Homo sapiens: one gene and its partner. The protein of the gene in region 1 interacts with the protein of each later gene in a pairwise test. Each region holds a gene or a part of one and is shown on either strand. Other genes may lie near its edges. The genes, in order: FOXA1 and SEZ6L2.

What was found.
Region 2: the proteins of FOXA1 (region 1) and SEZ6L2 interact in a two-hybrid assay, tested with the Homo sapiens proteins (one large-scale study listed by BioGRID and IntAct).

Annotation. Positions count from the first base shown.
Region 1 is NC_000014.9:37,588,987-37,592,507, reverse strand, and holds the end of FOXA1 (hepatocyte nuclear factor 3-alpha), read left to right. Parts: coding exon 1-1,143; 3' UTR 1,144-2,956; downstream 2,957-3,521. UniProt on the Homo sapiens protein: Transcription factor that is involved in embryonic development, establishment of tissue-specific gene expression and regulation of gene expression in differentiated tissues.
Region 2 is NC_000016.10:29,870,452-29,873,220, forward strand, and holds the end of SEZ6L2 (seizure 6-like protein 2 isoform 5 precursor), read right to left. Parts: intron 2,293-2,769; coding exon 2,254-2,292; intron 2,076-2,253; coding exon 1,958-2,075; intron 1,833-1,957; coding exon 1,736-1,832; intron 1,278-1,735; coding exon 1,248-1,277; 3' UTR 708-1,247; downstream 1-707. UniProt on the Homo sapiens protein: May contribute to specialized endoplasmic reticulum functions in neurons.

The DNA of each region.
Region 1 (3,521 bases):
ATGAACAGCATGACTGCGGCCGGCGTGACGGCCATGGGTACGGCGCTGAGCCCGAGCGGCATGGGCGCCATGGGTGCGCAGCAGGCGGCCTCCATGAATGGCCTGGGCCCCTACGCGGCCGCCATGAACCCGTGCATGAGCCCCATGGCGTACGCGCCGTCCAACCTGGGCCGCAGCCGCGCGGGCGGCGGCGGCGACGCCAAGACGTTCAAGCGCAGCTACCCGCACGCCAAGCCGCCCTACTCGTACATCTCGCTCATCACCATGGCCATCCAGCAGGCGCCCAGCAAGATGCTCACGCTGAGCGAGATCTACCAGTGGATCATGGACCTCTTCCCCTATTACCGGCAGAACCAGCAGCGCTGGCAGAACTCCATCCGCCACTCGCTGTCCTTCAATGACTGCTTCGTCAAGGTGGCACGCTCCCCGGACAAGCCGGGCAAGGGCTCCTACTGGACGCTGCACCCGGACTCCGGCAACATGTTCGAGAACGGCTGCTACTTGCGCCGCCAGAAGCGCTTCAAGTGCGAGAAGCAGCCGGGGGCCGGCGGCGGGGGCGGGAGCGGAAGCGGGGGCAGCGGCGCCAAGGGCGGCCCTGAGAGCCGCAAGGACCCCTCTGGCGCCTCTAACCCCAGCGCCGACTCGCCCCTCCATCGGGGTGTGCACGGGAAGACCGGCCAGCTAGAGGGCGCGCCGGCCCCCGGGCCCGCCGCCAGCCCCCAGACTCTGGACCACAGTGGGGCGACGGCGACAGGGGGCGCCTCGGAGTTGAAGACTCCAGCCTCCTCAACTGCGCCCCCCATAAGCTCCGGGCCCGGGGCGCTGGCCTCTGTGCCCGCCTCTCACCCGGCACACGGCTTGGCACCCCACGAGTCCCAGCTGCACCTGAAAGGGGACCCCCACTACTCCTTCAACCACCCGTTCTCCATCAACAACCTCATGTCCTCCTCGGAGCAGCAGCATAAGCTGGACTTCAAGGCATACGAACAGGCACTGCAATACTCGCCTTACGGCTCTACGTTGCCCGCCAGCCTGCCTCTAGGCAGCGCCTCGGTGACCACCAGGAGCCCCATCGAGCCCTCAGCCCTGGAGCCGGCGTACTACCAAGGTGTGTATTCCAGACCCGTCCTAAACACTTCCTAGCTCCCGGGACTGGGGGGTTTGTCTGGCATAGCCATGCTGGTAGCAAGAGAGAAAAAATCAACAGCAAACAAAACCACACAAACCAAACCGTCAACAGCATAATAAAATCCCAACAACTATTTTTATTTCATTTTTCATGCACAACCTTTCCCCCAGTGCAAAAGACTGTTACTTTATTATTGTATTCAAAATTCATTGTGTATATTACTACAAAGACAACCCCAAACCAATTTTTTTCCTGCGAAGTTTAATGATCCACAAGTGTATATATGAAATTCTCCTCCTTCCTTGCCCCCCTCTCTTTCTTCCCTCTTTCCCCTCCAGACATTCTAGTTTGTGGAGGGTTATTTAAAAAAACAAAAAAGGAAGATGGTCAAGTTTGTAAAATATTTGTTTGTGCTTTTTCCCCCTCCTTACCTGACCCCCTACGAGTTTACAGGTCTGTGGCAATACTCTTAACCATAAGAATTGAAATGGTGAAGAAACAAGTATACACTAGAGGCTCTTAAAAGTATTGAAAGACAATACTGCTGTTATATAGCAAGACATAAACAGATTATAAACATCAGAGCCATTTGCTTCTCAGTTTACATTTCTGATACATGCAGATAGCAGATGTCTTTAAATGAAATACATGTATATTGTGTATGGACTTAATTATGCACATGCTCAGATGTGTAGACATCCTCCGTATATTTACATAACATATAGAGGTAATAGATAGGTGATATACATGATACATTCTCAAGAGTTGCTTGACCGAAAGTTACAAGGACCCCAACCCCTTTGTCCTCTCTACCCACAGATGGCCCTGGGAATCAATTCCTCAGGAATTGCCCTCAAGAACTCTGCTTCTTGCTTTGCAGAGTGCCATGGTCATGTCATTCTGAGGTCACATAACACATAAAATTAGTTTCTATGAGTGTATACCATTTAAAGAATTTTTTTTTCAGTAAAAGGGAATATTACAATGTTGGAGGAGAGATAAGTTATAGGGAGCTGGATTTCAAAACGTGGTCCAAGATTCAAAAATCCTATTGATAGTGGCCATTTTAATCATTGCCATCGTGTGCTTGTTTCATCCAGTGTTATGCACTTTCCACAGTTGGACATGGTGTTAGTATAGCCAGACGGGTTTCATTATTATTTCTCTTTGCTTTCTCAATGTTAATTTATTGCATGGTTTATTCTTTTTCTTTACAGCTGAAATTGCTTTAAATGATGGTTAAAATTACAAATTAAATTGTTAATTTTTATCAATGTGATTGTAATTAAAAATATTTTGATTTAAATAACAAAAATAATACCAGATTTTAAGCCGTGGAAAATGTTCTTGATCATTTGCAGTTAAGGACTTTAAATAAATCAAATGTTAACAAAAGAGCATTTCTGTTATTTTTTTTCACTTAACTAAATCCGAAGTGAATATTTCTGAATACGATATTTTTCAAATTCTAGAACTGAATATAAATGACAAAAATGAAAATAAAATTGTTTTGTCTGTTGTTATAATGAATGTGTAGCTAGTAAAAAGGAGTGAAAGAAATTCAAGTAAAGTGTATAAGTTGATTTAATATTCCAAGAGTTGAGATTTTTAAGATTCTTTATTCCCAGTGATGTTTACTTCATTTTTTTTTTTTTTTTTGACACCGGCTTAAGCCTTCTGTGTTTCCTTTGAGCCTTTTCACTACAAAATCAAATATTAATTTAACTACCTTTCCTCCTTCCCCAATGTATCACTTTTCTTTATCTGAGAATTCTTCCAATGAAAATAAAATATCAGCTGTGGCTGATAGAATTAAGTTGTGTCCAACGGAGACTCATGAACTCTCTTCTCATTAAAAGAGAAACGAAACTTAGCCATCAGGGTAGCTCTGGAGGAGGTGGGAGGAGGGGAGTTAATTCACTCTCGCAGGGGAAGCGTTGTACCGACAGGACATTTTAGGGTAGCCGCTATTTTGCATTTTGTGAAGATTGTTTTAAATTTTGATTCAAAAATGTCGTTCCTAAGAACTTAAAGTTGATAATTTGTTTCCTTCTAAGGAGCTTTTAAATGCAACTTCACACTCCATAGTTGCTTGGGATCACAAAATCATTAATCTCCTTTGATAGCAGGCTCACTTTCCAGTCCACCTATTTCTTTGTAAGTCTTGTTCGGATTGACATCAACAATAACAACACCAGCTCAAGCAGAGGCCTGCCTGCCTGAGCCCTTGTGTATGAACTCCATCCTCACCAGGGCTTGAACTTGGACAGCCTTTACTTTGATCGCCCCACTCCACACCGCGGACAAGATAAAAAGAGCCGTGTGAGTCGCTTAATTATCGCGTAATTGCCTCCCCAGATGAGAGAAAGGGTGCCATGTAGCACTTGAAAAA
Region 2 (2,769 bases), on another chromosome or scaffold:
AAATGGTGTACTTGAATGGATACAAAAATTCTCCAAAGGGGGTGAATTTTAGGCAAACTGGTCATAAGACAAATTGAAAAGCCAGGCTTGGTGGCTCACGCCTGTAATCCCAGAACTTTGGGAAGTTGAGGAAGGAGGATTGCTTGAGGCCAGGTGTTCGAGACCAGCCCGGGCAGCGTAACAAGATCTCATTTCTACAAAAAATTTAAAAATTAGGCAGGCACCATGGCTTGCACCTGTAGTCCCAGCTACTCAGGATGCTGAGGCGGGAGGATCCCTTGAACCTAGGAGTTTGAGGTTGCAGTGAGCTGTGATGGCACCACTGCATTCCAGCCTGGCCGGCAGAGCCAGGCCCTGTCTCTAAAAAGAAAGAAATTGAAAGCTGTTTGCCTCCTGCCCAGCAGCGAGAGAAGACGGGTGGCTCCTGTCAGTTCTCTCCCATCTGGAAGAGGCCCACAATGTCAAGGAAGGCCTGGTGGAGAGGTCACTGCGTCCTGGAGTGAGGCTGGTCGCAGGGAGGCCTTCACAGAGGCTGAGCCTAAAGCCAGGCTTTTTTACCTCAGGCCAGGCCCCCGGACACTGCCCTCTGCCCACTTTCGCATTTCCTTTTTTTTTTTTTTTTTCAAATTGTTCCCCTTTCCCCAGCCCTCTCTCCAGAGAAGTGGTCCAGTGCTCGGTGACCACCTCCCCACACTCCACCGGCCCAATTACAAGTGGCGATTTTCTGTTTATTGCTCAAAAACAAGAATTCAGAAGCAAAGGTGGAGAGACTGTGGGTTGGGGAGATGGCAGGAAGGGGGCAAGGCCTTGTCCCAGCTCTCCCCTTTGTCCTTCTTCTGACCCTCCTGGCCGGAGTCAGGCCTAGGGCCAGGGCATCTGGGAGGGGGGCACCTTCGTGGCCAAGGGAACAGTAGAGCTATCGGGGGCAGTCCTTGAGGGGTGCCCTGGGCAGGAGGGGCTGCAAGATTTGCAGGGAGGCAGAGTTCCCCTCCCAGAATCCAAAAGCCGGTAGGGCGGGGGGCAGGCCCCTCGTTTGGCAACTGAGAAGAGGCGGCTTTGGGCGGCAGGATGCTGGTTTATTTACTGTAGGATCTCCAGGGCCATCAAAGCCCCCTCGTGGGATAGGGAGACTATTTACACAGCCAGGGAGGAGGGCAGCCAGGAGGCAGAGACCGGGTCCCGTATTTCCCTCTGCCCGAATGAGGAGGGGAGGGGCGTCCTGGGTCCTGCAGCTGTAGTCTTGGGGTTCAGATGGAAACTTCATACTCCCGCGTATCCTGAAGACAGAGAGATCAGGTCAGTTGTTGGAGTCTGATAGGGGTGGAAGAGGCAGCCGAATGGGAGGAGGGGCAACGATCCTGGGTTTTAAAGTAACATTGACCTCTAGGGGCTGGGGGGCCAGTGAATGTGTTTGGTTCATCCTACGGTGTCGTAAAATGACACAAAAATCTGAATTTCTGGCTTGTCTTGAATAATTGGAAGATCTGCCAATTGTGCCTCAGTTTCGACTATGGGGTAGAGCCGTATTCTTGAGATGGGGCACAAGTCCTCCACTTAGCCACAGTCCTCACCACTCCCTATTGTATACACATGGCTTGCTATGCTCATTGACATGGCCTCTGGGGGCAGCTGAGTTTGAAATTCCCAAGACAGAGATTCCAGAGACCTTGCGAGAAGGTTATGGAGTCCTGGGAGAGCCAAGTGGTGGCTCTTCAGGGGCAGGCAAGGTGCTTACCCCAGCTTCATACAGCGGGTTGCTGAAGTCCGACTCCACGGTGATGGGGCTGTAGGAGTGGGAGCCCGAGAAGCCGAAAAGGGACTTTCCCTGAAGCCTGGGAAAGGGAGAGGACAGAGGAGCTTATCAACAGGTAAGCCCCTGAGCTCCCCTGACCCAGGCTCCAGTGCCAGGCTCGCAAGACGTCTGCCCTGGCCGGCAGTCCCCAAGCAGGCTACTTACTTGGTGTAGTAGATGTAAACGCCACTGCCGAGGACAATGACCAAGCCTAGAGGCAGCAGGATGGCCAGGGCCAGGTTCCCCCCTTCCAGCTGCCGTGATGGATCTGTGGTCTGGGTCACTACAGGAGGAGGAGAGGCCGGTGAGCTGTGGCTGGGCCCGGTCCTGGGCTCTCCCAGCCTCCTGCCCTGGGCCTCAAACCCTGGGCTTCATCCCTCCAAGGCCTGGCCTCCTGCCCCAGCCTCTGCCTTGCCCTCCCAACCTGGCCAGCCTGGGTCTCCACCTGTGCTCTCACTGACCTTCCAGTTTTCGGTTGTCCAGGAGCTCCTCATAGGCAACTGCAGGGAGAGGAGGGGGAGGGGATGGGGTCTGAGCCAGGGAGGGGAGGAGGCTGGGAGGGGCCGGGAGCCCGGTGGGGCTGGGCTGGACAGCCTGGTTCTCTCTGCCCTCTGCTCAACCTCAACTTTCTCCCTTTGTGGGGAAGAGAGAGGAGTGACCAGCACAGGGCCTTTGTCCTCTTTCTCCAGACCCCTAAAAAGTCAGGGTTCCTGGACAGTCTGAGCCAAACTAGAACTTGTCAGCGATAGGGAAACTGAGGCCTATTCAGAGCAAGGGACTTCCAAGCCAAGGCCCCCTCTACTACACCCCTGAGCCAATCCCATGACCTCACACGACCCAGGGCTTCTGGACACACCCGTGAGGACACGAGGCCACAGGAGGAGAACCGGGAGCTCTGTGGGGTCGCCCATTGGTCTCAAATGTGCTACCTGACTCTCCCAGCCCTGTCACTTCCCGGACACTGGTGTGCCCCTCCT